4 linked regions of the Homo sapiens genome follow. The protein of the gene in region 1 interacts with the protein of each later gene in a pairwise test. Each region holds a gene or a part of one and is shown in the gene's direction. Other genes may lie near its edges. The genes, in order: VAMP1, SGMS2, SCN3B and ARL13B.

Region 1 (7,202 bases):
GGAGTTCTTACTGTAATTTCTATTCTCCATCAAATTTGAGAGATCTCCCCCCTGCCTGTGGGTGCTTCCTTGGCCGAGAACATCTCATGACTTAGGTTATACTTCTGGGAATTCTTTAGGAGGTGAGTTTAGCCTCCATGTTTTGGGACATGGAGAGGAGTTTGTCTTGAAGACCACACACTAACTTTGAGTGGTACAGAATGAGAGAACATTCTCTGTGTGTATAGTACAGTAAACCAAGATCTCTCTTTGGGATGTAAGTAACCAAGGGAGTCATCTGAGACTGTCAAATCCAGAAAAGGAAGGGACAGAATGTCTATAATGCATGCACATTGAGGACAATTTCTAGCATTTTTGCTTCCTGTCTATGCTCTTGGAACAGTTTCCATAACTAATGTAATTGCTTTGGGCCCCAGATTCTATCTAAGTGAAACCCCCATTTTCTCTGCCAAAAACAAAGCAAACAAACAGTCCTGACTCACTCCACCTACATAGACTTTGCCTTTGGTGATTTTCCAAGCTGCCCTTATGGCAGCCCTGATTTCCTCATCTTGTGTGAAGCATAACCAATAACTGGGCATATAAACCAATAACCATAACCAATAACTTGAATATAAAAAGGGGTGAGCTGACAGACATTACAGTGTACAGCCTCCCTCCTGGCTCCCTTCACGGACTGGCATTGAGTGTCTGTGGCTTTTCCAGGCGCACGGTGCAAGCTACCAGTGGATCTACCATTCTGGGGTCTGGAGAATGGTGACCTTTTTCTCATAGCTCCACTAGGCAGTGTTCCAGTGGGGACTCTGTGTGGGGGCTCCAACCCCACATGTCCCTTCTGTACTACACTAGCAGAGGTTCTCCATGAGGGCCCTGCCCTTGCAGCAAACTTTTGCCTGGACATCCAGGCGTTTCCATACATCTTCTGAAGTCTAGACGGAGGTTCCCGAACCTCAGTTCTTGCCTTCTGTGCATCTGCAGGCTCAACACCATGTGGAAGCTGCCAAGGCTTGGGGCTTCCACCCTCTGAAGCCACGGCCCGAGCCCTGCATTGGCCCCTCTCAGCCACAGTGGGAGCGGCTGGGACACAGGGCACTAAGTCCCTAGGCTGCACACAGCATGGGGACCCTGGGCCTGGCCCACAAAATAACTTTTTCCTCCTGGGCCTCCAGGCCTGTGATGGGAGGGGCTGCTATGAAGGCTTCTGACATGGCCTGGAGACATTTTCCCCATGGTCTTAGGGGCTAACACTAGGTTCCTTGCTACTTATGCAAATTTCTGCAGCTGCCTTGAATTTCTTCTCAAAAAAATGGTTTTTTTCTTTAGTACTGCGTCTTTTCTTCTGCCAGATACCCTAAATTATCTCTCTCAAGTTCAAAGTTCCACAAATTTCTAGGGCAGGGGCAAAATGCTGCCAGTCTTTTTGCCAAAACATAACAAGAGTCACCTTTGCTTCAGTTCCCAACAAGTTCCTCATCTCCATCTGAGACCACCTCAGCCTGGACCTTATTGTTCATATCACTAACAGCATTTTTGTCAAAGCCATTCAACAAGTCTCTAGGAGGTTCCAAACTTTCCCGCATTTTCCTGTCTTCTTCTGAGCCCTCCAAACTGTTCCATCCTCTCCCTGTTAACCCAGTTCCAAAGTCGCTTCCACATTTTTGGGTATCTTTTCAGCAACACCCCACTCTACTGGTACCAATTTACTGTATTAGTCTGTTTTCATGCTGCTGATAAAGACATACCCAAGACTGGGAAGAAAAAGAGGTTTAATTGGACTTACAGTTCCACATGGCTGGGAAGGCCTCAGAATCATGGCGGCAGGTGAAAGGCACTTCTTACATGGCAGCAGCAAGAGAAAATGTGGAAGAAGCAAAAGCAGAAACCACTGATAAACCCATCAGATCTCATGAGACTTCGTCACTATCACCAGAATAGCACCGGAAAGATGGGCCCCATGATTCAGTTACCTCCCCTGAGTCCCTCCCACAACATGTGGGAATTCTGGGTGATACAATTGAAGTTGAGATTTGGGTGGGGACACAGCCAAACCATATCAGCGGGGAAATGCCATTTAGGACAAGGCTAGGCCATATGTCCCTGTAGCCATCATGGCAGAGGACTTGTTTGAGTTGAGTCAAAGGATAGCCCCAGATGAGATGTCTTGATGCCATCCTGGATGTCCCTGAACCCCATCCAAATGTTGTTGCAGAGTCTTTCATCTTTTACTTCTTGCCTCTATGGTTTGTCTCCCTACTTCAGATTGCCAAGGAGCAAGAATCCATTCTAGTTTTGTATAGCCTAATCATAATTGTTTAAGTGGTTTGGGGTGAGGATGCATGTGAGTCCTTTCTTTTTGTCTGTTTTTTTAGAGATGGGGTCTCGCTATGATGCCCAGGCTGGCCTCGAACTCCTGGGCTCAAGCGCTCCTCCCACTTCAGCCTCTTGAGTAGCTGGGACTACAGGTGTGTGCTACCACGCCCAGCTCCTTTCTTGTCTTGGTCACTTTGTGTACTCTGCACATGTCTTTCCACAGGTCTGCTCCAGCTCAGCCACCTGCTGAAGGGACAGAAGGGACTGCCCCAGGTGGGGGTCCCCCTGGCCCTCCTCCTAACATGACCAGTAACAGACGACTACAGCAAACCCAGGCACAAGTGGAGGAGGTAGGTAGATAGCTGTTTCTCTGAAAGTTTCCAAATCTAGGAGTTTGGAAACAAAAGGGAACTTCTTATCTTTTCTCCTTTTTTCGTAGGAGAATAGTCAAAGGCCCTGAGAGGCAAAGCACCCTTTAGAGTTGCACAGGGCCAGACTTGTGATTCTCTGGTTGTTGTCCTTTCCTCTGTCTCTGGCAGGAAGCTTAGCTGCTTTGTTTCTGTGCCCTCCTCAGGTGGTGGACATCATACGTGTGAACGTGGACAAGGTCCTGGAGAGGGACCAGAAGCTGTCAGAGCTGGATGACCGAGCTGATGCCTTGCAGGCAGGAGCATCACAATTTGAGAGCAGTGCTGCCAAGCTAAAGAGGAAGTATTGGTGGAAAAACTGCAAGGTGAATTTTCTTGTCCCCTCCTCCATCTTTTCCTGGGCTTCCACTGGTAGAAGGCAAGAAAACCCTCAGCTTCTACATTTCTTCCCTCTAATGGTGCAGGATCTCTCTGACCAGCATAACGCTTGGGAGGAAATCTGGAAAGCCTCCTCTTGAGATTGCATTACCCAGAATTGGCCACCAGGGTAGGCTAGAGTATTTAGAACCGCTATCAGGGAAAAAGTGATACCCTGAGGAGTTTGGAATGGTTAGTTAAGGAGCTTTACCCCAAAGGAGTTGCCTGCAAAAAATTTCACCTGTCTCATCCTCAGACACACCCAACATCAGCACAATGGCTCAGGCATATATACATACACACACACACACACACACACACACTATATATACACATATGTATATATACATATATATACATTTATATATATATATACATATATATACATTTATATATATATATACATATATATACATTTATATATATATATACTTTTTTCTTTTTCTTTTAAATCAGCTTTCTCAGATTGAAATATATATTTTTAAATAACTGCAACTTTTGAGAATGAGCTGAACACTTCACAGTGAAAATTGAACTAATTGGTTAAATATCCAGAGTCTGTATCTCTATTGGAATGCCTTCTAAAGCCCCAAGACACCAGGAACTAAGCAAAAAGGAGCTCAATGCAGGTCCTGTGATGAATCTGAAAAGCTACAGACATACTGTGGTTATGATCCCCTGGGAAGCAGAAGGGTAGGGCCTCTCTAAGAGGCCTGCAGGTCTCCTGGGTGATGGGTGGTTTTTTCCATTGTCCCAAGGATGGAAGGAATTCTGTTTCCCACTAGAGATGTGGCTCTTTTCCTCATTCCTGAAATCCAAGGGCTCATTTTTTGTCCATGTTTCCTCAGATGATGATCATGCTGGGAGCCATCTGTGCCATCATCGTGGTAGTTATTGTAAGTAAGTATCGCTGAAGTTGCTGGTGGGGTGAAGAGGTGGGAAGGTCCTGGAGTCTTCTCCCTGCCTGCCTGCCTGCCTGGGGAGTGGGGCTGCTCTGACTGAGGTATGGAGACCGCTGCTATGGGATCGTCACCTGGTTCGGGACGGGGGAAGGGCAGAGACAAGGGATTTCTTTGATGGACAAGCCTTCCCCCTGCAACGCATTGCAGGGAGATGGCGCCTCCTGTTCTGAGGAAGTGGGGCTATGCTGTGTGTCACTGGCTTGGGTTGGAGGGAGACCATGGGGATGGGGCACTTAACAATGGAGAGACCTGAATGTCTGGTAACTTGGTGTAATTCACCCTCTTGTTTTCTCCTGTCTCTTTCTCTTTTCCGTCTGGGACTTCCTGATTCCTGTGTCCAGTCTACTTTTTTACTTGAGAATGTACCACCCCTTCCCTGTTGTCCATTGCCATCCACATTCATGTCCTCTGCCCTCTGTTTGCTCTCTCAACACACTTCCCCACCCACCGTCCTCCATTCCAGCCCAGGCTTCTCCATCACCCATTCCTCCTTTTTCGTTGCGTTCATTTGCACTCTGTCCCTCAACACTAGAAATGCTGCTCGTGGCACAATCTAAGTCATTACCCGAAGAGCAACAGCTGGCGCCTCCTCCCTGCCTGCTTTTTCTGTACTCTCAAGTTCCCCCAAAGCCCCAAAGAGTTGGAGGCCAAGGGAAGGGGCAGGGAGGGGAGTGGCTGAGGCGAAGTACCCATGAAGCTGCCCAGACTTGGGAGGAGAAGAGTATCGGTGCCCATGGTGACTTCTAGAAAACCTGGCCACTGGTAGGAGCTAGGGAGGGGCTGGGAAGATGGCAGCTCACTCAGTACTGCCTGGTCATGTGGAGCTTTCCTTCCTGGACCAGGCCTGAAGAGGGTCCTGGGGGTGGACCAAAGTCCAACTTGGTTTCAGTGCAGTACCCTTTTCGAAAGTAAAAACTTGTTTTTTGTAGTTATTTCTAATCTGTTCGTCCAGGATTTTCCGTGTCTTTGGGGATCTTACAACTTTACTTTGTTCTCCAGAGGCCTGGAGAACACTTAGGGATTGTGAAAATAGCAGGACTTGTTTCCATCCTAGAAGCAGTCCCATGTGCTTCTAGCTGGAAGGAGCTTTCTCTTCTTTACATTTTCTACAGCATTCTGTATGAGGGCACCAAATAAATCCATCTAGCTGGTAGTTTTATCTAGCCAAATAATTTAACCTAGCTCCCAGTTAATTGTTGGCATAAAGAGAGAGATTGCCTGTTAGTTATAGAGAAACAGTGAGTCAAGTGCTTAATTTGAAAGTAACAAGCTCAGAGGAAGCCACTCCTTGCCCTCGTTAAAGAGGGTCCTGTTCCTCTCTTCCTGTTGATGAAGGAGCGTGAGGGTGTTAGCAGTGTGAGATCTTTGGACACCCATGGAATCCTTTCCTCCACACCACCCGTGCACTTGCCAAAGACAGGGATGAGGCAAGTGGTTCTTCCTGGGGCCCGGCCGATCCTCAGGATGCAGAGAAGTCATGTAGACCCACCAGCCCCACCTTGGGGGGAGGCGTGCCAGCCTGTGTCAGGTGTGCTTGTGTATTGCTGTGCTGTCATGGGGCCCTCTCCTTGAGAGCCGCCTCTCTGTTCTTCCTGTAGTATATTCCCCTTTGAACCACCCTTTCCTGTCTGAATTCTACTTTGCCTCCTTTCTCTTCCTCCTCTTTGCATGGTTTGTGTGTATAGACAGTGGAACCTGAGGATGGGATCTGCTCAGCCTATCTTCGGGGCAATTGCTGAGCTTCAGGATGGGCTATTAATGTGGGATAAGCCCAGGTGCAAGGGGAGGAGGGCAGGCTGGGAACAGAGCGGAGAATGCCCATGGCCCTTTATTCCTTCTTCCCTCGGTCCACGAACAGGAAGAGGCTGAGGCCATGCTGGGCAGGGTCTGGATGCCCACTTTCCATGCAGCAGCATTTCATTGCTCAAAACCATCCTTCCTTTCCTTTCGCCCTTGTTTCCCACATTCCCTTCGTCCTGCCCAAGGGCGGGACTGAAGAGCTGGAAGAAAGCAGTCAGTACCCTCCCAACGGCCCCCCTCGAAGGTCTCCACTCTCCTCTGGGCTCCTCCTTGCCTAATGCAGGGGGTCACCGCTGGAGAAGAACCACCACTGTCCTCGATGTGTCCCAAGCCTGGAGCGAATCCGTCCTCTTGGCTCTCCCAGCCCTATCACAGGAATCATTCCTGGGTTTCTGTCCCTCTGAGGCTCACCAGGTGTAGTTGGCCTTGTTCTTTGGGGGTATTAGCCCTTCTACTTTCTTTCTCACCCACCCTGTACCCTCTTCTGTGTGTCTCTGCTATCCCCCTTTCCTCCCACCACCCATGTGCATGAGCAAATGTGCAACAAAACCCTGGGACTTTGCAGTCAAATGAAGCTGAGCTTCCCACATCCCGTTCTTCGGTTTGCCATGAGACGATGTGGGGTTTCCACTGTGTGTCTGTCATCACCTCTTTGTCTTTTTTTCCTAACCCTGATCTCATACTTGTATAGAGTAATAACAACAGTTGTACTTCCACCAAAGGCATGTGGCATATTTACCAATGTCATGTATTCTGAACAAAGGCAAAAAATACAAATTCCTACCATTAAACTGGCTTGGTTGTTGTTTGGGTTGGAGTAGCTGTGGGGGCTTGGGGAAGGGTGTCGTTTCTTTCTAGTAGTCTCATGTCGCTTTAGGTCAGCTGGGCTGGCTTACACGCGCTGTGCGGTCTTCATGGAGATGGGAGCTCTGTGTGTCAGCACAGGAAGTGGTCTCCCAGCGTTCAGCCTGAAGCAGCCCAAGTCCTGTAGGTGCTGGTAAGAGGAAGTGAAGACAGGAAGTTGCGTGGGCATCTCACACTGGCAAACAAGCACAGGTTCCCTCAGGCCTCTTCCATCTGCCTCCTGTGCTCCTTCCTAGGTCCTTGGCCTGCTTGTCCTGTCCCAGGGGATGTGCCCAGATAAGGCTGTCAGTGAACACCCCCTTACCCCCTTTTCCCCATCATCCTCACGTACAGTTTTGGTATGCTGAGTTCCACCGTATTGATTAGGCACATTTTAGAAACGAATAAAAAGGAGAAGTCTCTCCTTGCAGCTGAGGGAGTGAGGCATTTGCAGGTATCCTGAACCTCCCAGCAGTCACCCGAGGGAGCAGAACCCTAATTG
Region 2 (8,261 bases), on another chromosome or scaffold:
ACTCCAGCCTGGACAACAGAGCAATACTCCACCTCAAAAAAAAAAAAAAAAAGACAAGGTCCTGGGGGAGAAAAAAGGAATAAAAACATGAAGGCCTTTTAAATACAAACACATGTAAACGTACAGACACACATCTTGGATGGTAGTTTTCAATTAAGCTGACTTTAACCATTAAGTTCCTTTAAAAAAACAACTCTTTAAATCTCATTTCCATATTTCACGAACTAGGACAAATTGCCGCTATTTCAGAAGTACCAAGTATCAAACCAGAAAGGGCTTGATTTAGGAAACAAAACTCAGGCTGTCATGGTGGGAAAAAAAAGGCAGAACCCTAGCTATTGAAATGCAGTGTGAGGTGACTGCCTTTGCTTTCAGTTTGACCTGGCTAGCAAAAAGGTGGCTTTGTTATGTAAATAAAGCCCCTTAAGTAGTCAAAATTAAAATTCTTTCCTTTTTTTTCTTTTTTTTTCCTTTTTCTGGCTGTTTTTCTCCCCCCCATTATACCACCTTACCATACTACCTTTTTTGTGTGTGTCTATGAGAATTTAGCCACTTCAGTGGCCTTGTTCCCCATAATTTGGAACTTTCCTTCGGATTTGATCAAGTCGGAAGAAGTTGGTCAAACCCAATGGGAAAAAGACTGAAACAACAAGAAAAAGAGAAACAATAAAAAAAAACAGTTAAGCAAAAAAAAAATGATTGCACAACTTATATGATTACTGAGCACTCTAATGGTAAAGACATTAAGACCAGCTGGTTGTTGATTTTAACTTTAGCCAAGACAAACCCCAATTTAGTTATCTAGGGGTTGTTGGGTCTCAGGCTGAAGACTGCTTTCTATCCTAGTGAAGCAGCCTTGTTGTCTGGGGTGATACCTGAGGTTCATTGTCTCATGCAGAGGAAATCAAGGACATGGACACACAAGGAGTGAGGTTAAAAGCAGAGGATTAATAGGCAAAAGGAAAAGAAGAACTTTCTCCTGCAGAGAGAGGGGTCCCAAATGGGTTTCTGCTTCCTCAGTGAAATGCAGGTTTTATAGATGAGCTTGAGGAGGTGGTGTTTGATTTACATAGGGCATGAAAGATTGGTTGGACCAGGTGTGCCATTTGCATAAGGGTGCAAAAAGCTGGCCACCCCCACCCTAATGTTTTATTATGCAAATGGATTATCTTCCTGGCCCACACCATGTTGCCTGTTTCTTTACACATGGTGACAAAAAGGAAGATGGAGCCTACACGTTGAACATACCTGGCCCCCAGGTAGCCATTTTGTATTGGCACAGCTGCTGGCAGTAACCTGTGCAAGCTTCCAGCTTGCTTATCTATGTCTGCAGCTCAATTTTTCAGGCTGCTCTTCATTAGACAAAAGAAGTTTCTCGGGCTGCTTTCTGTTAGAAGGGAAGCCTTGCCAAGAACTCTTACCCTCACTATCTGCCTAAATAACTTCTATCTCCTGTGTCACTAGGAGCAGGAAAAAAAAAAAAAAACCTCATCTTCCCTGTTGGAAGGGAAACTCCGTAAAGGAGTTACCTACCTTCCATCATCATGGAAGCAGGAAAAACTTGCCTGCCTTGTGTTGGAAGCAACTAAAACTCCAAAAAAAAAAAAAAAAAAAAAAAGGTTGTACAGCAAAATAAACTTTAGATCTCAACCAGAATTGGGGAGATCAGGGATTCTCTGGAATGGGTGCTTCCAGGCCTCAGCAAATTGTCCTATTGGTTTAAGCCATAAAGATAGCCCAAGGTTGAACCAAGCACTGATAGGAGATTTGTTAAAGGTCAGGGGCACCTCCACTCAGAATCCCTCTGTGGTTACCAAAATGTGAACCCTGAAAATCTGAGACAGGTCTCAGTTAATTTAGAAAGTTTATTTTGCCAAGGTTGAGGTTGCACACCCATGACACAGCCTCGGGAGGTCTTGAAGACATGTGCCCAAGGTGGTCAGAGCACAGTTTGGTTTCATACATTTTAGGGGGATATGAGACATCAATCAACATATGTAAGATGAACATTGGTTCGGTCCGGAAAGGTGGGACAACTCAAAGTGGGGAGAGGCCTTCCAGGTCATAGGTAGATAAGAGATAAATGGTTGCATTCTTTTGGGTTTCTGATTAGCCTCTCCAAAGAAGGCAATCAGATATGCATTTATCTCCATGAGCAGATGTGTGACTTTGAATAGAATGGGAGGCAGGTTTGCCCTAAGCAGTTCCCAGCTTGACTTTTTCCTTTAGCTGAGTGATTTTGGGACCCCGAGATATTTTCCTTTCAAAATAGGAATGAATATGTTGTGATCATTATCTTGATGACAAACATTTCGTCCCAAGATTTGTTCACACATGATGAATGTGCTATGTATATTTAATCTTAATGAAATCCCAAGGAAAATATTAATTTTAACACTAATAACGATAAATGGGCATTGTACTCACATAGTGTTCTTACTCCCAGGGGCACAAAGCTCTTCACAATTAATTATTTCAGTCATTCTCATAGCAGTCCCATGAGGTGGGTGGCTGAGTGTGTCCTCTTGGAAAAAAAAAAGAAAAAAGGTTACTAATTGGATTTTCTTCTGTTCCACATTCTGTGTTCTAGAACCGAGTAGCTACCTTATAAAGACCATCTGTACATCCACTGTGAAATGGAGTTTCAAAATCACAAGCTTCTTTCCCACATGAACATAAGACTAGGAGCACATATGGAAGAGTAAAGTTGAAGGGAATTTGGATGATGATTTGGCAAGATGCTGTAAGTGGATTAGGCAAGGCTGCTAAAGAGAGACAGGAAATGGCTGTGTTAGTGCTTCGGACCTCCGTTAGAAGTAGCAGTTCATGGTGTTGAAGGTTTGTTGTTGAAAATACCTTCCTGAGGCACCTCTTCATTGTGCTTATTCTTCCCACAACATTGTGCCAAGACACTGTCAAGCCTGGGCCTGTCAAAGCCTGGGATGTCAAAGGCCTGGGTCTTTCTCATCCTGCTGTAATGTATTGATAGCTGGGGGCTCTGCAGAAGGACAAGGGAAAGGTGAGATGTTTATAATTCTCAGTAGTACCTTTTAGCTAGTCTCATGCTCCCTTATCCCCCATTTCTCTACCAGGCCAGCTTTCCACATGCTTTTGCTTTCTCAGAAACAGAGCCTGTGTGTGGACACATCTTGTCCCTGGAGCAGGGAAACAGTACAGCTAAACCTCTCACTTTACCTAGTGATCAGCTCATCCCTCTCCTTCCTTTCACAATATGCCATTCAGTCTTCTCCAGTAGTCTTTCATCATTTTAGTCCTGTCTCTTTGGTTAGACTGCAAGCTCTTTGGCTGAATGTTCAGGTCAGGTGTTTTTCACTCCTTTTAATTTGCCCTACATAGCCTTCAGCACTGGGGCATTTAGGTGCACAGTAAACACTTGTGGTTTATCTATTTGCCACCCATAATTGTAAACAGACATTGCCTGTACATATTGACTGCCATTTTCGCTGTGTTTTTTTTCTTTCATTAAATAAAGGCTTAGCTGTCATCACTTTGAGTTTGTCCTCCTCAGTTTTCCCTGAAGTTACCCTGAAACGGGGAGGCAGGGGAGGGGGGAGGTCCTTTAAAATGCAGTGGATTGTGCTTAAGTTGAGCAGTGTATCCAGGGAGAGGACTAATTACGAGGTTTGAAAACCTCATCAGGTGGCTGGTTTCTGTAGCAGGACTAAAAGACTGCTCTCCTAAATTGAGAACAGCTGGGGCTGTGTGCTAGCAAGTATAAAAGAGGTGGCAGTGGTGCCCCGTGTCCGAAAGAAGTGTGTGCTCTCTGGAGCCTGTGGAGCTGAAGCCAAAGGTAGTTATCCTCATCAGTGTCGTGGTGGGTGAGTCCCCTGAGCTGGTCCTCTGGAGGCCCGTTTCTGTTGTTTGGTAGAAATTGTGGTAGCTGAATCAAAATATTGTTAGTTACTAATTTATCATGCCAATTGTAGTGAGGTATTTTTATCCTTCAAATAAATTCTACTTGTTACCTGCGTGAGAGACATAGCTAAGGCTTGGTGTATCTTTTCAGAGTTATTTTGAAGGCTGCCAGCTTTTCTTGTATATGGTGTGCGTCTCTGAATATAAAAGGATAAACTGAGGCTGTGCCATTTTAAAAATCTTGAATGTGTTGTTCTTGAATCTGTTCTTAAAAGCGGTCACTTAAAAAGACTTCTGTTTTTTAATTAGAAAATAGAAAATTGACTATTTTGACAAATGAAGAGTAACAATTATTCAATGCATATAAGCCTCTTACCAGTTTTTTATTCTTTCTTTATGGCTCATAGAAAATACAGTCTTAGGAAGGATTGATGTGATCTCTGGGTAATTTCTAGCTTATTATGACTTCATGGTTAGCAACAAGTGATAGTGTCTGATGAAGTGTTTGCAATGTTAGGTCCTGATTTTTCTTTAAGGAAATTTAAAGGGAACTGATTGTTAAAATGTTCCTATTTCTACCAATACTAGCTCAAAAAGAGACAAGAATTCCAAGATAAAACTGTTCAGTATTTTGTAAATAAACTTGATCTCAGCAGCTTTAACTAGGTTCTGACGTTACATTTATAAAGCAAATGGCTTTGGTATTTGTTTCCTTAGTTTAAGAATGTTTCTGTTTTGGATGGTTGACAGTTGGACAAGCATAGTTTCTGAACATAATTTTGTTTTGCTTTTAGGTGGGATAGTAACATCTTTTTGAGGGAAGAATTGGCTTCCTTTCTTGAAAGTGGTGAAGGTACAGCATATAGCTGCATGGAAGAAACAGTAATCGGATGGCTACCTTCTACATTTTGTATTAGGAAACAAAGTCCATTGTAAGAGTCCATGTTGATCTTGGAAATAGAAGGATTGAAAAAAGCTAAATTTCCACAAAGAACAAGAACTTGACCATCTCCTTTTTGATCTGAAGACTAGGGGACAATGGATATCATAGAGACAGCAAAACTTGAAGAACATTTGGAAAATCAACCCAGTGATCCTACGAACACTTATGCAAGACCCGCTGAACCTGTTGAAGAAGAAAACAAAAATGGCAATGGTAAACCCAAGAGCTTATCCAGTGGGCTGCGAAAAGGCACCAAAAAGTACCCGGACTATATCCAAATTGCTATGCCCACTGAATCAAGGAACAAATTTCCACTAGAGTGGTGGAAAACGGGCATTGCCTTCATATATGCAGTTTTCAACCTCGTCTTGACAACCGTCATGATCACAGTTGTACATGAGAGGGTCCCTCCCAAGGAGCTTAGCCCTCCACTCCCAGACAAGTTTTTTGATTACATTGATAGGGTGAAATGGGCATTTTCTGTATCAGAAATAAATGGGATTATATTAGTTGGATTATGGATCACCCAGTGGCTGTTTCTGAGATACAAGTAAGTAAATCTAATGTTTTGAGGATTTGTCATGGGTTTGTTTTTGAGTGAATAGATGGGTTATTGAGATTATTTTTCCTTTTTTTCCCCCAATAAATTCAGTCTTACCCAAACATTTGATGAAAGAAAACAGTAGAAAGCTCTACCACATTGAATAAATTCAGTCACTATTCAGTAAGTGTTTGATGAGCAACTGTGTATGAAAGTGGCAGTGTACAGCAGTACTGTGGTGGATGACTCAGAGTTGATGAATTTAAGGTGCAGTTCCTGACTTCCAGCAACTTGGTGCTATGGTATTTGTATGATAAATCAAGAGGCTTGGAAAGGAATAACATTCACTCCCATCATGTTTGTTATTTCAGGCTCTTGACAAGTGGGAAAAGGAATAGGTTGAGAAACTTTTTTCTCCATTACTCATAATGTGATGTCTGTATTGGTCTAGAGTCAATAGCCTGCTTTAAGGTTTGCCTAGATTCAATTCTCAAATTTTACATTTCTGTGGGGCTGGGTGTGTGGATGTGGTTTCGGTTTTTTGTTTGCTTGCTATCTAGTTACAAGTGTTTAAGAGACTGAGTTTAGAACCAGATCCATGCGGTTTTGATTTTTAGATTTCTAAAGTAAACTTGCCCTCTGATTTTCCTTGGACACCACAAAGGAGCTCATGGTTCACTGGGTTCAGCCTCCTCATTTTTGGAATAGTAGGAAATCAAGAAGAAATAAGTCAGGTACTTTTGCTTTGAAGACACTTAAGAATTGGACATAGCCCTGAAGTGGTTATTTCTGCTTCTCTATGTGAATTCTGACTCCTAGTCCATAAAAACGAAGGCTCCTTAATTCCTCCTTTCCTCTCATTCATCATTTAGACATTTGTTTTCCACTGGGATGGTAGTGATTAAATCACTAAAATATGATTTTGATCAAAACACTGACCATAATACAGAGTTTAAAAATGTAATGTATGCTAACTTGGATACAATCTGAACATTCCAAGTCAAATAGGATTTCAGTATTAATGCCACAAGATCATTCTTAGAGAATTTTGGCTGTATTGTTTTTTAGTTGGTAACACTTTTCATTACTTGATCAATTATAGAACTCTCAATGTGGTATATCCACTCAGACCCTAACACTGTTACTGTTTTGTGATTAGAGGAATTCAGTCTATCTTTGTTAAAGAGTTCCCCAAATGCAACTTTGCAGTCTTAAAACCTTATTCCACAAACTGCAGTCATTCCTAAGCATTTTCCTTAATATAACTCTTCATGTGTTTCCTTAATATGCTTAAGTAATAGACTTAGCTATGAGTTGTCTTTTACTTAAAAAAGTAACCTGCTCCTGAAATTGTTAAAGGATGCTTTATGCTAAAAGCAAAAAATGTATTTATGAACTTCAGTGTTTTTCTCTTTAGTGTCTGGAAATTAACACAATGTAAGAGCCTGCTAAGGCGGCAGATAATTTGCTTTCTCCTTTATTTAGAGCAAGGTTTTATTGATATATGTGTGAAAAGAGAAATTGTCCAGAATCTGGTAAGTATGTGGACTCCACCCTGAAGTACAGTCTTTCCCTCAATTTAGCTGTATTTTCATCTAGATCCTTTTTGAATTTTCATTAGATAGTTATTATTAACTGCCTCTACCTACCACCTTAGATTTTCAACATGTCCAAACACACGGTCACATAGCCAGACCATAAATTTTAATGATATCCACTGTTTCAGTCGCAATTCACACAAGTTTGCCTTTTTACATTTGAAGTAGAATTGGATCTTACATTTTAGTAACTAGTAGAATAATTTTTATAACCTGTTTTGAACATCCCAGCTGAATGAGGAATGTTGCTTGCTCTCTCTTTTAAAAGCACCTTTCAAAGCTATGGGAAAAAGTCATTAGCACTAGTTCTTTTTCTAAATAAGGCTGTAGAGTACATCTTTCACCTTCTAAGTTGGTTTTCTGTTCTGAGTACAGCTGAACTCAGAATGCTGGAATGAATGTAATTGACTCATAATAATTTCTGCTTATTACTTCCCCTTGTCTAACAGCATGGAGCACAATTCAAAACAGCACTCTGTTGGAACCTGAGGTTGGATCAAAGGCTAAATTGGTTTTCCCTTAACCAAGGGAAGAAACTCAGCACTGTTTATTACCTGCTCCTTTTTAGTACCAGGAAAGGCAGAACTAGAATAGCAAGCCTTTAAAGAAATTCCTTGGGGATAAATAAATACTCTCATCTACTAGTCTAGGTGGTGTTCCCTTCTATTTTTTTTTTGACCCCAGAAACCTTGGAATATTCTTAAAATAGCTGTTGGAAACAGACAGCTGAAATATATATTTATACATAATTCTTGAAATTAGAAGTTCCAAATGTTATCTGAATTAGACCTTGATTCATGTCAGAACCACAATCTTAGGGAAAACTTAAAATATGTCACATTACCTGAAACTGCCTGTTTTTTCAGAAGTCTTTGATCACTACCAGTCTTGAAAGCTTGAGACCTCTGAAAATGAGAGACCTAGAGTAATATGTTTTATGCAGTAATGAAGTTACACCTAGCAAGTCTAGGGGCTTTATGTGGAGTCCCACTCATCTCTTAATCCCCAGAGCCCAGAGCTGACAGACCTAACTATACAACAGAAAAGGAGCTGTCCTGTTCAGCTGGACTAAAGACATTCAGACCCATGATGCCCATTCAGATACCCATGAGGCAATGGTACAGTGGCAGAGCCCTTCCCTTTTGAAGACAGGATCCTCCGTCATCCACTGGGAAGCCTGCCTCAGGCTGAGGACTCAGGTCATGAAGCACAGGGGCTGATGTTAGGACAACGTTCTTCTCACAAAAATATAAAGTGAAAAATGACTTGTGGGATTTTTTTATCCTTTTTTTGATCAAGATTG
Region 3 (8,365 bases), on another chromosome or scaffold:
CCAGTAGTCTCAGTGAATGTGTTTCATTCCACAAGAAAACTAACATCTCCCTGAATAGCTCCCATTCAATTCTTTCTTCAGCAGAGTCATGTCATTCCCTCCACCTCAAGATCCCTGAATATCTAGGCTCTGTACTCCATCCTCTTCCTCAATCTCTGAGCATAATTAGCTAAAGTCCCCTCAAAGGAGAAGTGTCCTTAAGTCTAAAGACCCTCTTTTCCCTGGCCTGCCATGGCATTGCACCTTGCTGGGTCTCTTCCTATTTCTCTGACTCTTGGTTTTCTGTTCCCCTATTGATTCTGGCCTCAGCTCTTCACTGTTTCCACACTATTCTCACTCCCTTGTGTATTCATTCACTTGTGTCCTCTGTGAAGAGGACCTAATATCTGCTTGGCACTGATCTAGGTGCAGGACGGCAGCAGTAGACAGAACAAACAAGGCTGCTATCTATCACCAAGGAGAACCAGCCTGATGGGAGGAACAGAAAATAAGCAAGTACATATATTAAAAATAAGATAATTTTGGATAGTGAGAGAAGATATGAAGAACAAGAAACAGGGTGATGAGATAGAGAGTAGCTTCAGGTGAGGAAGGTAGCAGGAAACAAGCTTAGAGTGACCAGGGAATGTCACTCTAGGGTGAAGTCATTTGAGGCAAGACCAAAATGACAAGAAACCAGCCATAGAATGAAGAATGTTCCAGGAAGAGGGGACATCAAATGCTAAGGCTATAATAATAATGATGGGAAATATTAATAGTGGGGAAGAGTTTGATAACTATGAGGTACATTTCTTTAAAATTAAGTGTAATTGGAACATGGTGGACAAGACAGAGAGTGGTAGAAATGAGTGTGGAGAGATAGCCAGGGCACAAGGCCAACATTAGGCCATGGTGACAAGTCTAGATTTTATTTCAGTGTAGTGAGATGCCATGGAAGGGCTTTAAGCAAGAGAAGTTCCCATCTTTTAGAATACAAAGACTGTTCTGTCTACTCTTTGGAGAATAGAGCATATGGTTTCACCCATTAACTGTGAAGGGAGAATGATTATTAAATTGGGAGGCCAAGTCAACAACAATGAGAAAGGATTGAAGCCAAAATGGCAGAAAAGAGGAAGGGAGAGCTTAATTTAAATGATTTTAAAACTCTCAGAACAAGGCCAAGAGTACTTCAGGGAACTTAAGGTACTTGCAAAAGTGACTGAGAGTGACAGCCAAAAATCAAGGGAAACAGCAGGAGAATGAAAAGACTAAATGCTCCTATTTTCAATACAGGAGAGGGAAGAAGTGGTATATGAAAAATAGAGGTGAAATCCTGACAGTGACTATTTACAATGGGGTTGATAAACAATTAGAAAACAACATTATGAATATTAGCAATTCACATGAATAGACATAAGAAAAATTTTGTAAAGCTGAGCCAATTCCTGCTGTGGTAGTTGATAAAATTATCAGACTGAAAATATTTCAGTCTGTCTGTGTATTTCAGTCTTGGTAAGGCTTTCAATAAAGTCATAGAACCTCAAAGACGATAGGAACTTTAACATAATCTATTCCAAATTTCTAACCTTTACAGGTTTTCCTTCCTAAACATCCCAGCAGTTGTTTGGATAACAACTGCTTGGATGTAACGAAAGGTAATTTGTCCTACTTTGGAAAGGTTTGAAATGTATTGCTGAAAATCTGTTTTTGTGTTAGTGTAAGCCATTGATCCTATTTCTTTCCTGTGGATGACTAGATGTCTAATTCCTCTCACAGATTCCTTTTATTCTAAATTTTCAGAATGTCTCATGCTGTACATATAAAAAATAGGGAGCTATGTTTGGGTTTTATGATTGAGCAACTGTTCTAAAGAATTTTAATTAGGCCAGGTGCAGTGGCTCATGCCTGTAATCCCAGTGCTTTGGGAGGCCAAGGCGGGCAGATCACCTGAGGTCAGGAGTTTGAGATCAGCCTGGCCAACACGGTGAAACCCCCTCTCTACTAAAAATTCAAAAATTAGCTGGGTGTGGTAGTGGGCACCTGTAATCCCAGCTACTTGGGAGGCTGAGGCGGAATGATTGCTTGAACCTGGGAGGTGGAGGTTTCAGCGAGCCGAGGTCACACTACTGCACTCCAGCGTGGGCAACAAGAGTGAAACTCCGTCTCAAAAAACAAACAAACAAACAAAAATGTTAATTAGTAGCTCATTGTCAAGGTAGAATGAGGTCTTTAGAAGCAGGCCATAGGACTATCTCTTCTTTTTTTCTATTGGTTCTTTTTTTAAATATCCATGTGTGGATCATGTGATTGTCAAGCCTAGAGATGAAACAAGGGTAAAGAAGAGAGATATATTGGGTGATTGAATCTGAATTCAATAAAAGTATTAACACAGTGTGATAACTGGTTGAAACTAATAAATTTTAACAGCAATAAGTGCAAAGTTTCATAATAAAATTTCCAAAATTGCCTGTACAAGACACAATGACTCTGCAACAAGTCAAGTGAAGAATACTCAGGGATTTTAATTGAACATAAGCTGATTATGACTAAGATGTGGCTGTAAATGTATTTAACTAGTTATATCCTTCAAAGCAAATGTAGCCATAATTCCACTGGATTTATGCTGGTCAGACCACACAGGGACCATCAGTTCCTGTTCTGGACGTCACTTGGAGAATCATGCTGAGAAACTGAAAGTCCTTCTGAAAAAGCAGCCAGGGTGGTACAGGATTGGAAACTACTAGAAAATACATTGGAAGAAACTAAGGAAGAGTAGCCACAAACAAAAATGTCTTAGGGCGGATGTGAGGAAGCATAGCTCTTTTAAAGAGAAAACAGCATTAGGGCCACTTAATGGAGTTTGGAGGGGGAGGAGGAGTGTACGGAATTCAACTGAACATAAAGAACTTCCTTAAGCATCAGAAGAGGTGAACTTGTGATGTAGAAAGTTCTCATCACTAAAAAGATCAAGGCCAGGCGCGGTGGCTCATGCCTGTAATCCCAGCACTTTGGGAGGCCGAGGCGGGTGGATCTCCTGAGGTTGTGAGTTTGAGACCATCCTGACCAACATGGAGAAACCCCATCTCTACTAAAAATACAAAATTAGCCGGGTGTAGCAGCGTATGCCTGTAATCCCAGCTACTCAGGAGGCTGAGACAGGAGAATCACTTGAACCCGGGGGACGGAGGTTGCGGTGAGCCAAGATCGCGCCATTGCACTCCAGCCTGGGCAAGAAGAGCAAAACCCCGTCTCAATAAATAAATAAATAAATAAATAAATAAATAAATAAATAAAATCAAGTCCATTCGTCCGAAATGTTCTTGGGGGAAGTCACAAATTGGAAAAGCGGTTGAATTAGGTCAACTTTAACTTCCCATCCAAATTTAACACAGTATACATGCTTCAAGGCCTAGTCCTCCAAACAGCACAGAGTTTATGGCCTGGTGGCTCCCTGCCCAGGAAGATCCGACTGGGGACATTCTGTTACTCTGTGAGATGTCAGGAGGGAGCATTTCCTGCTTCTGGTCCACTCACCGTCAGCTGTTGCTCTGTTATTCCATTTTGGAATATCAGCGTTAAGCTTCCCCTTTTGGAAAGAGCAGAAGAGGAGAAAAAGGAAGCTGAAGAAGGGCTCTTGGATTACTCTTTTACTTCAGTTCCAGGCGTTCCTAATCTGTTATGTCAATTTGAGTTTATAGTTGAATGTAAAGTTTCAGGTTTCCCTTCCAGAGATGGGGCGGGGGCACTCAAACAGCTGCTAGGACTAGGGAGTGGCTAATAGTTGGAAGACGCCAAACACAATCTATCTGCTTTATTAAAAAGGAGTAATTAAAGGAAAAGGGAGAACTGCAAAGAACCTGGGGAAGGGAAGAGGAGTCCTCTTGGGCCCCCCTCCCCTTGCGCTGACATTTGGATCACCTCACTGAGTGATGAGGTGAAGACAGGAACAGGTGCGCCTCATCCCTACCCCATTTGCCCTAAACAGGGATTATCTTGCTGAGTTTGCTGTGTCCGGGGCCAATTAATCAAGGCTAGACAAAGGATAGACAGCGAGAACTGGAAGGCATGGGGTCTGGGAGGCGAAGCCAGGAACCGCGTACGGCGCGCCTTGCAGATGACATCATTGCCTGAAAGAGCTCTGGCCCTTCTCTTCCCGGAGCTACACCCGGCAAGTCCGTGCGGGAGCGGAGTGGGTTTGCCTGGAGGGCGTGAGCCGAGGGCGGCGGTGCGCCCGAGCTCGGGGGAGGTGCGGAGGCGCGAGAGGGAGACCTGGAGAGACCAGCGAGCGCGCGAGCAAAGATATCCCGGCTGGAAGTGTCTGCGCCGCTCCCGGCTCCGCCCCCGCTCGGCGCGGCGCTGGGCCTGGGAGGGGCACGCCCATCAGGGGGTGGGGAGTGTGCACTAGGGGGAGGGTCCGGGGCGGTGGTGGTGGCGGAGAGCCGCCTGCGCATGTCAGGGCTGACAGCACACACGGCCTGGGGGCCTAGAGAAGGGTTGCTGATCACCTGCCACCCAGGGTCGGGGCCCCGCACCATCCGGGGGCGAGCTCCCGGGAAGGGGCTCCGCCTCTACACCCACCCCCCAACCTCTGACATCGCCGGCCGAACGGGAGCTGCCGCTTCCTTCCCGGCCCCGCTGCACCTCCCCAGGGAGCCGAGGGCGGGCGTGGACGGGACCGACGTGGAACGCATTCTGTAGCCCAGACGGGCGGCCCCGGCGGCTTCGGGAGTGGGGTCACGCCCAGCTGGAGAAGCAGTTAGGGCGGACGAAGCAGGAGCCGCGGGGCTGGGAGGATTCCAGTCGGAACGCAACCGATCCTGGGGAGGCGAGAGGTGAATCAACCTGGACCCTTCCACAGCCTGGCTGCTAGGCCAGCAGTGCGACTCCCTTCCGAGCTGAGCTTACCCTGGGCGCAAACGAGCGAGGCAGGGGCGCGAGTGGAAGCTGGAGTTCCGGGGTGGGCGGGGAGGCGACTGTCCGTGGTGCTGAGCGCCGGCGAGAGCGGGCGCGGAGCGGCTGATCGGCTCCCTCGAACTGGGGAGGTCCAGTGGGGTCGCTTAGGGCCCAAAGCCCCCACCCGGCTCCAAAAGCTCCCAGGGCCTCCCCAGGCACCGGTGCTCGGCCCTTCCTTCGGTCAGAAAGTCGCCCCCTGGGGGCAGTTCGTCCCAAAGGGTTTCCTCGAAAGAATCTGAGAGGGCGCAGTCCTTGACCGAGGGAATCTCTCTGTGTAGCCTTGGAAGCCGCCAGCCCCAGAAGATGCCTGCCTTCAATAGATTGTTTCCCCTGGCTTCTCTCGTGCTTATCTACTGGGGTAAGTACCAGCACCTCGCCATGCCGGATGCAGGTAACAGTAACAATGCTAACAATAATAACACATTGATGTCGTTGGTGACAGAAAAGAGCTCTGGCTGGCTTGCCTCTGTGCGTATCTGCCAGACATGGAGATGGCAGGGGTTCCATGAGAGCTGGGATTTTGAGATGGGAAAGGCGCCTCCCCACCGCCCTTCCCCGCTATTCTCCAACCTCCTTTGGTGGTTCTTCCGCCCTTCCTCCAGTTTCCTGATCATTCCAAAGTATTTTTTCCCTTTCCCTTTGCTGAAAGGAAATGCAGTCACGTTCACGAATAAAAACCTCCTGTGTGGTTACATTTTATTTCTCATCAAGGAGTCTATACTCCTGGAAAGCTTACTGGGTCTTCAAATTCGTTTCTGTATATTAAAAAAAAAAAAAAACCATAAAAGCTGGATGCATGAATTTTGAGAGTGAAAATACTTTAGTTGCTCATCATCTTCTTAATTTTAACAAGGAATGGGAAGAAAACAGCCTTCAGCCATTTACTGCTATATATTAAATAAATAGGCAACTGTGAAATGCATCTTTCTTTTTCTTCTTCTTCTTTTTTTTTTGGTTTGTTTGTTTGTTGCATGAACCTGTGGAACTAAGATGCTTTGGTGTTAGGGGAGGAGAGCTGGGTTTTTGCCTTCAAAGGTGAATAGATTCTTGCTTGTCAGCTGTGAGAAACTGAGGTGACCTTCCCCCTCCAAATAAGGGAATCTTACACTTGGAACAGTAAAGGCTGAAGAGAGTGTCAGAGACGGTCTTGGAGTGCCTGAATGTGTGTAAAGGGGATTGATCTATGTGATAATGTCTGATTGTGTGATTGAGACAATGTTTTACTGTATGTAAATATATTTCAGTGTCTGGATGTGTGCACTAGCATGTGTGTGAGCATGTTGGCATAGACATCTGAATGCATGGGTGAGTGTAGTAGTATGTGTATGGCAGGGGTGGGGGTGGTAGTTCTGGGCATGTCTGCCTTGGTGTCTATGATTAGATCCTCAGATAAAATATAGGTTCTCTTCAGCAGACAGATTGCTTTACATGATCTTAGCTACCTTTCTCCGTGCAAAAATCAATACACAGGGTAATTGGACACAATTGTACCCACCTGCCTCCCTGAAACGAGGCATGTGAGCTTATGTTCCCATGGTTGGCATGAAACTCATCCTGCCTATACGGTGGCAGACATGCTGATGGGAGCTGCCTCTTTGCTTTAGTATTACTTTTTCAAGCCTCCAGGACTAACTCTAGCTGCCAGCATTATCTGGATTTTGCATGTGACCAGAGGCAGAGCCAAGCTTCCTGTCAAAATGCCTGATGAGACGGACTAGGAAGGTTGAGGAGGGAGGTAATGTCAGCCCCAAAGGCGGACTCATCACCAGCCATCCCCAGTAGAGTAGACCAGACCTGGAGATGGAGCAGCTATAATATGTTGCCAATGATCTCACCTGCCTTGAAGATTAAGGCTGAAATTTTCTCAGGGGAGGCTAAGGCTGAGGACACGAGGCTTAGAAGATGTTAGCCTGGCCAGATAAAAAGAGCGTCGGTAAAGCTGAAGTTGTGGATAAGGGTTGGAGTGAGACTCTGCAGAGACTTTCTTCCTGAACTCTAATCTAAGATTTTGAGATCCCTGCCTGAATTCCAGTGGAGGGAGAGAACATGCTATCATCCAAGAATCTTTTAACTAGAACTTGTGCAACCTGCATTGGAGTCTCAGCTTTGCCACTAGCTTACTATATAACAACCTTAAAGTGCTATCTGGTTCCTTCTGTGTAATGTTTGGAAGTTGGCACGGGTGATATCTAACATCCTTTTCAGCTCCACAGATGAATGGTAGAGAAATCTTTGAAGAATATTGCTAGAATTGACAGAGTGCCCATCCCCTCCCCGACCCCAAAAAACTTTGGAAGAAGTGTACACAGTATGCCCATCTTTGCCCATTCTCAGTTTCTTTGCAAACTGAGTGTTGTCTCACCAAACTGAAAAGCTGTGGAAGGGAAAGAGAAGTGGTTCAGGACACTTGGTTGTTAACTGTAAGAAAAACAGCTTCCCTTCGCCAGGCGCAGTGGCTCACGCCTGTAATCCCAACAATTTGGGAGGCCGAGGCGGGTGGATCACCTGAGGTCAGGAGTTCAAGACCAGCCTGGCCAACACGGCGAAACCCCATCTCTGCTAAAAATACAAAAATTAGTCGGGCATAGTGGTGCGTGCCTATAATCCCAGCTACTAGGGGGACTGAGGCAGGAGGATTGCTTGAACCTGGGAGGTGGAGGTTGCAGTGAGCCAAGATTGTGCCACTGCACTCCAGCGTGGGCAACAGGGCGAGACTCCATCAAAAAAAAAAGAAAGAAAAACAGCCGCCCTTCACAGATACAATTTCATTTGATTTGCATGCAATTCCAATATTGAACAATAATGCTGGGTTAGATGTGTTCCCCCTTCCAAAGTTGATTTTTTAATATGATGTACAATATGAAGGGAAAGAGTCTTTCCATTTACTTTCTGCATGCATGAAAAAAAGTTTCCTTATTTCCTTTGTTAAAGCATGTAATAATTTTTATTTTTTAAAGAGATTTAAAAAATAATACAATACAATAAATAATTAATACAATAAATAATTAATACAATAAAATAATAATAATTGTATTAAAAAAATTAATACAGACGATGTCTCGCCATATTGCCCAGGCTGGTCTCTAACTCCTGGGCTCAAGTAATCCTCCTGCTTCAGCCTCCCATAATGCTAGGATTATAGGCATGAGTCACCATGCCCAGCCTTTAAAATAAATAAATAAATAAAACCCTATATTTGCCTGTGCATCACAGTTTACAATGTAATTTTCAATACATTGCTTGTTTTGGTCCTCATGTCTATCCCTGAGGTAGTCAGGGGAAAGAGTGCTATTTCCAGTTTAGAGATGAGAAAATGAGCTCGGGGAAGGGAAAGGACTTGCTAGAGAACCCTTGTTTTCTGATTTCAGTCTTCCAGTGCTCCTTCTAGCACCTCTCATGGACACATGTGCTACTATGCACAATCGCCAGGAGG
Region 4 (8,261 bases), on another chromosome or scaffold:
TGAAATGAAAAAATCAACACGAATACATGGTTAGATTTTTTTTTTTTCTAGAATAAAACTATTTCCTAGCTTTGTGCACTGAAAGGGCCTAGAAGCAGTAGTAAGTCAATAGCAAATGTTTATCTATAACTCCTAGGTTTTAGTCTTTAAAATGCCATTTTCCACTGAAAAGATCAAGGCTTCTTGGGGAAATGGATGATTGCAAGTCTGGAACCTTGTTTCATAGTAGAACATAAAGAAGCTATCAAAGACTGTTGGAGTTGTACCAAAAGGGTCCAAGAGCCAACCTGAAGGGGACTCCTGCTGCCTCAAAATGGGTACCTTTGAGCCTTAAAAAGAGCAATAACTGCAACAAATTGAAACACATCAAATACATTTTTAAATCCATAAGTTCATAATGATGCCTCTCAAAATAAGAAAAAGTACCAAAAAGCCTGAATAGCCAAAGCAGTCCTAAGCAAAAAGAACAAAGCTGGAGGCATCATATTATCTGACCTTAAATTATACTACAAGGTTATTGTAACCAAAGTAGCATGGTACTGGTATAGAAATAGATGAATAGATCAATGGAAAAGAATAGAGAACCCAGATGATGGGTACAGCGATGCTAGGAAAATTCAATTGCCATATGCAGAAGAATGAAACTGGAACCCTGTCTCTCACCATATACAAAAATTAACTCAGGGTGCATTAAAGACTTAATGTAAGACCTGAAAAATACTGGAAGAAAACTGATGAAACTCTTCTGGACATTGGTCTAGGCAAATAATTCATGACTAAGACCTCAAAAGCAAAAGCAACAAAACCAGAAATAGACAAATGGGACTTAATTATTAAGTAAAAACTTCTGCACAGCAAAAGAAGTAATCAATGGAGCAAACAGCCTGCAGAATGAGGGAAAATATTTGCGACCTCTTTATCCTATAGGAGACTAATAACCAAAACTTACAAGGAAATCAACAACAAAAAACAACCCCATTAAAAATGTGCAAAAGACATGAATAGTCATTTTTCAAAAGAAGACATACAGATGGCCAACAAGCATATGAAAAAAATGCTCAATATGCCTAATCAGAGAAATGCAGATTAAAACCACAATGAAATACCATCTCACACCAGTCAGAATTTTTAGCTGTTACTGAAAAGTTAAAACATAGCAGATGTCTGCGAGATTGTGTAGCAAAAGGAATGTTTATACACTCTTGGAATGTAAATTAGTACAATCACTATGGAAAACAGTATGGAGATTTCTTTTTTTTTTTTCTTTTGAGACGGAGTCTCGCTGTGTTGCCCAGGCTGAAGTGTAGTGGCGCGATCTCGGCTCACTGCAAGCTCTGCCTCCCGGGTTCATGCCCTTCTCCTGCCTCAGCCTCCCGAGTAGCTGGGACTACAGGCGCCTGCCACCACGCCCGGCTAGTTTTTTGTATTTTTAGTAGAGATGGGGTTTCACCGTGTTAGCCAGGATGGTCTCGATCTCCTGACCTTGTGATCCGCCCGCCTCGGCCTCCCAAAGTGCTGGGATTACAGGCGTAAGCCACCGTGCCCGGCCAGTATGGAGATTTCTTAAAGACCTAAAAAAAGAACTACCATTCAGTCTAGCAACCTCACTACTGGGTACCTATCCAAAGGAAAAGAAATCATTATACAAGAAAAGATATCTGAACTCAAGATGTTTATCACAGCATTATTCACAGTAGCAAAGGTAGGGAGTCAACCTAAATGTCCTTCAATGGATGATGAAAGAAAATGTTTGTGTGTGTGTTTTGTATATACATACATAAAATGGAATGCTATTCAACTATTTAAAAAAGCATGTTTTTTCCAGCAACGTGGATGGAGCTGGAGGTCATTTTTTAAAGTGAAATAATTCAGAAACAGTCAAATCTAGCGTGTTCTCACAAGTGGAAGTTAAATAATGTGTACACATTGACATGGAGTGTGGATTAATAGACATTGGAGACTTGGACAGGTGGGAGGGTGGAAGGGGAGTTAGAGATGAGAAATTAATACCTACAATGCACATTATTAAGCTTATGGTTACACTGAAAGCCCAGACCTCACCACTATGCAATATATCACCACTATGCAATACATTTACATCACAAAACTGCACTCATAATCCTTAAATTTATAGGATTTTTTTTTTTTAAATCAACCTGATCACCTTCGGAGGTTGCTACGCCATTAATTCATTATTTTGAAAATCAGGAAATAAAGGCAAAGGATCAAACATTTATCTTGACTTTGTGAATTTTAAGAGGCACCAAGTAGTTGGTGAAAGCTTATTTTTAGCAAGAATCCTGCTAGTAAATGCAGAAGGAATATGGAACTATAAAGTTACTGTTTCATAAACTTTGGTAAAATAATAGAATTAAGTAAAGGTCATCAATGGCTGCTAAAATCATTAAGTGAAAGATTAATGAGGAACTTTATTTTGGATGGATCAGGCTAAATGTAAATCCATTAGTTAATTTTATACCACCAAAATAGGACATTATATAAAAGTGATATTATATGCCTCCCTAAATACAAGCACCACCTACGAAGTATGCTTGCCAAAAAGATTTCATCTGAAACTCATCCAGCTTCTTACCACCAGATACGGGAAATATAGGATAGGTATGTTAAATAAGTTTATAAGGAAGATATTAGCCAAATCCCAAACATGGGAATTCTAAAGAAAAATTACAAATGTCATGGGAGGAAAAGAGTCATGGGGGTGGTAGTGGGGAGGGCAGGTATAATATAGATTCAAAAAGAGTTAAGTGATAAGTAACGTATATTGGACCTGAATTTAAACATAACACTTGTAAAATGATATTGGAGAATATTGAGTAAATTGAGTAATATTGAAGACTTACTGTTAATTTTGTTAGGTGTGATAGTGGTATCATGGTAATGATTTTTTAATATCTGGGTGAAGTAATGTGATTCAGGCAGCAAAATAGAAGGTATGTAGATTTTAATGGTAACTTGGGAAATACAAAAAAAAAGAAGGTATATAGATAAGCAAGAATGACACAGTTTTGATAATTTTTAAAGATAGGTGGGAAGGGTTCGTTAGATTTCTTAGTCTATGTACTTAATTTTTTTTTTAACCTAAAGAGTCTGTCAAACTTTGAGCAAGGCAGTATTTTATTAAACTTTTAAATCTATGTTATATAATTAAATAGTGGTAAATTGTGGTAAATCCTGTTTTTCTGTAGAATATATTGGTTTTCCATTTTGTTGGTGTCCAGTTTGTCTCTAATTGAGTACAATTTTTTTTTTTTTTTTAATTCCCAGTGCTTTGCCAAGTATATTAGAAGTGGCCTTGGGTCTTCAGTAAATTGCACATTTATGTGGACACATTCACACATTAGAATTGTAGATGAGCTCAAATATTAAAAGTTCAGAATGAATATTTGGGCATTTAAAACATTACAGTTTGTATTTTAAGAAGATAAGAATATAATTTATGGATGTGACCTGTGGAAATTAGTCCTCTTATTTTTCTGTTTTGTAGCTTTTTCTGTTTTGTTGGCATATTGATCTCTTGTTTATGTTTTCTTGACACTTTATTTGATTTTCCTTTTATAGGCCAGTACTTAAAAACTATTTTAGCAATAATAAGGGAAAAATGACAAAATTGATGCTACAACATTTTAAGATACTAGTGTGTTCTGTAATCAGTACATTTAAAACTTGGGAATCAAAGAATGTGGTCAGGCCAGGCATGGTGGATGATATCTGTAATCCCAGCACTTTGAGAGGCTGAGACTGACAGATCACTTGAGGTCAGGAGTTCAAGACCAGCCTGGCCAACATGGCGAAACCCAGTCTCTACTGAAAATACAAAAAATTAGCCTCGCGTGGTGGCACACAACTGTAGTCCCAGCTACTCTGGAGGCTGAGGCAGGAGAATCACTTGAACCTGGGAGGCGGAGGTTGCAGTGAGCTGAGATTGCACCACTGTACTCCAGCCTGGGAAACAGAGCAAGACTCAGTCTCAAAAAAAAAAAAAAAAAAGAATGTGGTCAAAATATCTTTAAGTTTCCATCCAATTATATATATGCTGTATAAAAGTACTTTAATTATCTTTCAGGTTGGCAAATAAACAAGATAAAGAAGGAGCTTTAGGAGAAGCTGATGTCATTGAATGTCTATCTCTGGAAAAATTGGTCAATGAGCACAAGTGCCTGTGTCAGATAGTAAGGTTTTTTTTTTTTTTTTAATTTTAATTTTTTGTCCTTTCAAATAGGTTCAGTATAACTTGGTTTTTATAAAAGTGATAGCAATTAAAAGGCAATGTTTTCAAAGAATTTTTTGTAACCTATGAAATCACATTCCCATTTTTCTGTTGATATAACTTAATACCATAATATTTGTTGTCTATTTCATTGTTATTTCCATGAACTATCTTTCCATGATTTCAAGGAGCTTCACATTTGCGTTTTAACATAGCCAACACATCATGGCATGAAATTTGTAAAATGGGAAAGAAAAGTGTAAATACAAAATTTAAACATATGAGAGATTCATAATGAATTTTGAAAAATTATTTTGCTGGGCATGGTAGCTCATGCCTGTAATCCCAGCACTTTGGGAGGTTGAAGGGGGCAGATTGCTTGAGCCCAGGAGTTTGAGACCAACCTGGGCAACATAGTGAGACCCTAGCTCTACAAAAAATACAAAAACTAGCTGGGTGTGGTAGTGTGTTCCTGTAGTCCCAGCTGCTTGAGGGGGCTGAGGTGGGAAGACCACTGGACCCTGGGAGGCTGAGGCTGCAGTGAGTTCTAATTCAGCCACTGCACTCCAGCCTGGCCAACAGAATGAGACACTGCCTCTAAAAAACAAAAAAAGAAAAGATAAATCATATCAGGAGAGATGTCATACAGTCTTAAGGAAGATGAACAGTGGATTTAATAATTTATTTTGGTTTCAAAAAACATTAGGCTGTCAATCTTATGGATGTTTACTGCTGTATATTGTAGTATAAGGAATTAAAACTTCCTGGCATTTTTAATCAATAGAGATGTCTTTTTATGGTAGTTAAATTTTTTCTTCTAATATTATAAGTGGCACTGTCACCCTCTTCTTTATAATATCTTACATAGTGTACAGATGTTATCTGTAAAATATTTTAAGTTCTATATACTGATGTTAATCATTGCAGTGCTATGTTTTGGAAGTTAAATAAGCAGATGCTTCATATTATTAACTTAAATGGCTTAATTTTGATTTGCCATTAATTATACTTAATGGTTTATGAATAGATTTGTGTGGAGACCTTTTAATCTTTTAGTCAAATAAATTTCTGTTTTAGGAACCATGTTCAGCAATCTCGGGGTATGGAAAGAAAATTGACAAGTCCATTAAAAAAGGCCTTTATTGGCTGCTACATGTTATTGCAAGAGACTTTGATGCCTTAAATGAACGCATCCAAAAAGAGACAACAGAGCAGCGTGCTCTTGAGGAACAAGAGAAACAAGAAAGAGCTGAACGAGTGCGAAAATTACGAGAAGAAAGGTAAGTAGATTAATTTTGTACCACAGTGCATTTGAAGGATCAAAAACATAACAATTTTATGAATCAGTTGTTAGTTTTATCTGTTCAGTTTCTTCTTTCTGTGTGAAGGAAGACACTAGGTAAATTTTGTATTTCTGTGGATCTTTTTCTGTACAAGTTTGGGTGGTAGATTCCTAATTTTTCTGGTGGTTGTATAATAGTTAAATTTACTCCTTACGTAGCCATTGTCTTCCAGAGTTTTAAATTTTTGTCTCTGATTGCTTGTGGGTACCTTAGTGCAGTGGTTCTCAATGCACAGGGTAGTTTTTAACATTTGGCAGTGTCTGGAGACATTTTTAGTTTTCACCACTAGGGGAAGGAGTGGAGTACTACTTGGAATCTATTGGGTAGAGGCCAGGGATGCAGCTAAACATCCTATGACACACAGGACAGTCTCCCACAACAAAGAATTATCAGGCTTAATATGTCAATAACGTTGAGACTGAGGAACCTTTTTAGTTTCAGCAAGGATAGAAGGTGAGCTGCTAGAGAATCATTCAACTCAAGCAAAATCTGATCCATAGTTGCCTTCCATCTGGCCTTTTATGTAGTTTAACATAGTTGTAGCCCAGTGAGCAAGAACTCACTACCCTTGGTGACCCATTATGAGGTACTTCCTTATACCGTGAAGGAAATCCTCTGATAACTGGTATTTTTCATTTAATTCATCAATAGGACTTAAAGAAATATTTATAGAAATGACTCTCTATCCCCAAGTGCTCAATAATATGAGCGTGCCTTTCATCTAGGGATCTCTTTATATAAAAGACAGATTAGAGTGAATGATTTTGGCAGCTGTTGATACAAGGTTTTAGTTCCTGTGAGAATATTTGTTTTTTTCTTAGTATGTATTTTTATCATATAAAGCTCAGTACAACCAATCATGCATGTTAAGTATACCTTTTATATATAATATTTATAAAAATTAAATATATGGCCATAATTATGTGAAAACTCCTTTTCCTCCACTAAGAAAATAAAAACAGAAGCAACAAAAAAATTGAGTTGGATAAAAGAAATCTAATGTTAGTAACTTTTTAAATGTTTTTGCCTTTTCCATAATGATATTCTAGATCATGTTATGGCAGGCTTTTCCAATACTCCTTACCCTTTCTTTCTTTCTCTTTATCCATGCCAGTTGTGGTCTGAGACCTCTCCTCTTGAGGAGACCTCTTCTGTTGAGCCAATACTCCATAATTAAAAGCAAATTGACATTCGGAGACGGGTGATTAAAAACAAGCTTTTTACTTCACTAAATCCAATCTAATTGGTTCAGATAGTCATTTCTAGTGTTTTTGAAAAACAGTAAAACATGCCAAGTAAAAATAATATATTAATACTGTATTCCTGAAGTTGCTTACTAATAAATAAAATTAATAACAATGACTATCCTATGAGAAAGTTAATTCACAGAGTGTTCTCACATATATTACTTTATCTGACCCTTGATACAGCTCTATGAAGTGGTTATTTTTATTCACATTTGTGGGAAAGCTAAGGCTCAAAAGATCCAGGTCCAAAGTCACAGAAGTAGTAAATTGCAAATCTCCAAATCTTGGCTTCCTAGGTTCATAATAAAAGGATATGTATTTCCATCTAGAACACAGCTAGTAAATATTATGGTAATGAACATTTACATTGCTATACCATACTTACAGTCCAGTTAAAGATCCACAATACTTGTGTTTCTTTCTTTTTTTTTTTTTTGGTCTCTGGCTGCTCTTTTTTTTTTTTTTTTTTTTTTTTTGAGGTGGAATTTTGCTCTTGTTGCCCAGGCTGGAGTGCAATGGCGCAGTCTCGGCGCACTGCAACCTCCGTCTCCCAGGTTCAAGCGATTCTCCTGCCTCAGCCTCCCGAGTAATGGGGATAACAGGCATGCACCACCACACCCGGCTAATTTTGTATTTTCAGTAGAGACAGGGTTTCACCATGTTGATTAGGCTGGTCTCAAACTCCTGACCTCGTGATCCACCCGCCTCGGCCTCCCAAAATGCTGGGATTACAGGCGTGAGCCACCGCACCCGGCCGGCTGCTCATCTTAATAACATTACTCATCATGTATGGAACAACATTACTATAAATCACAGAGATAGTAAATGTTCAGTGGTAACTAATATGGAAATACTTATTTAATCTGAATGATACATATGGTAACTTATTTTTATAGCCACTGAACACTATTATGGAAGTTATTATCTAGTTCAAATATGATACACAACTTGATAAAATATTTTATATTACTACTCTGTCATATACTTCTATAGAATCAATCTGTAGATATTCTAGTCTTTTATTCTTTTATACTAAACAAGAAACATGTTTATGCAGAAATAAAAACATAGGTTGAGTTGAAGGAATGTTTTCCTAGTTTTGTAAGAGAAGACTTAGCCCTTAAGAAAAGAATTAATAAGAATAATTACTATTTGGCTGGGCGCGGTGGCTCACACCTGTAATCCCAGCACTTTGGGAGGCAGAGGCAGGCAGATCACAGGGTCAGGAGATCGAGACCATCCTGGCTAATAGGGTGAAACCCCGTCTCTACTAAAAATACAAAAAATTAGCCAGGCCTGGTGGCGGGCGCCTGTAGTCCCAGCTACTCAGGAGGCTGAGGCAGGAGAATGGCGTGAACCCGGGAGGTGGAGCTTGCAGTGAGCCGAGATGGTGCCAATGCACTCCAGCCTGGGCGAGAATGCAAGACTCCGACTCAAAAAAAA

Evidence for each region.
Region 2: the proteins of VAMP1 (region 1) and SGMS2 interact in binary tests that used the Homo sapiens proteins (3 or more experiments, as listed by UniProt).
Region 3: the proteins of VAMP1 (region 1) and SCN3B interact in binary tests that used the Homo sapiens proteins (3 or more experiments, as listed by UniProt).
Region 4: the proteins of VAMP1 (region 1) and ARL13B interact in binary tests that used the Homo sapiens proteins (3 or more experiments, as listed by UniProt).

Annotation. Positions count from the first base shown.
Region 1 is NC_000012.12:6,461,683-6,468,884, reverse strand, and holds the end of VAMP1 (vesicle-associated membrane protein 1), read left to right. Parts: intron 1-1,780; exon of another isoform or gene 1,781-1,834; intron 1,835-2,533; coding exon 2,534-2,660; intron 2,661-2,884; coding exon 2,885-3,043; intron 3,044-3,943; coding exon 3,944-3,995; coding exon of another isoform or gene 3,996-4,009; exon of another isoform or gene 4,010-4,398; coding exon 4,399-4,415; 3' UTR 4,416-5,915; coding exon of another isoform or gene 5,916-5,926; 3' UTR 5,927-6,042; coding exon of another isoform or gene 6,043-6,053; 3' UTR 6,054-6,648; downstream 6,649-7,202. Other genes in the region: TAPBPL (tapasin-related protein isoform 1 precursor), read right to left, coding at 6,736-6,851. UniProt on the Homo sapiens protein: Involved in the targeting and/or fusion of transport vesicles to their target membrane.
Region 2 is NC_000004.12:107,890,640-107,898,900, forward strand, and holds part of SGMS2 (phosphatidylcholine:ceramide cholinephosphotransferase 2), read left to right. Parts: intron 1-2,427; exon of another isoform or gene 2,428-3,019; intron 3,020-4,670; 5' UTR 4,671-4,914; coding exon 4,915-5,369; intron 5,370-8,261. UniProt on the Homo sapiens protein: Sphingomyelin synthase that primarily contributes to sphingomyelin synthesis and homeostasis at the plasma membrane.
Region 3 is NC_000011.10:123,650,672-123,659,036, reverse strand, and holds the start of SCN3B (sodium channel regulatory subunit beta-3 precursor), read left to right. Parts: upstream 1-4,412; 5' UTR 4,413-4,811; exon of another isoform or gene 4,812-5,210; 5' UTR 5,211-5,235; coding exon 5,236-5,290; exon of another isoform or gene 5,291-5,352; intron 5,353-8,365. UniProt on the Homo sapiens protein: Regulatory subunit of multiple voltage-gated sodium (Nav) channels directly mediating the depolarization of excitable membranes.
Region 4 is NC_000003.12:94,031,247-94,039,507, forward strand, and holds part of ARL13B (ADP-ribosylation factor-like protein 13B), read left to right. Parts: intron 1-4,084; coding exon 4,085-4,190; exon of another isoform or gene 4,191-4,195; intron 4,196-5,305; coding exon 5,306-5,508; intron 5,509-8,261. UniProt on the Homo sapiens protein: Cilium-specific protein required to control the microtubule-based, ciliary axoneme structure. May act by maintaining the association between IFT subcomplexes A and B. Binds GTP but is not able to hydrolyze fit; the GTPase activity remains unclear.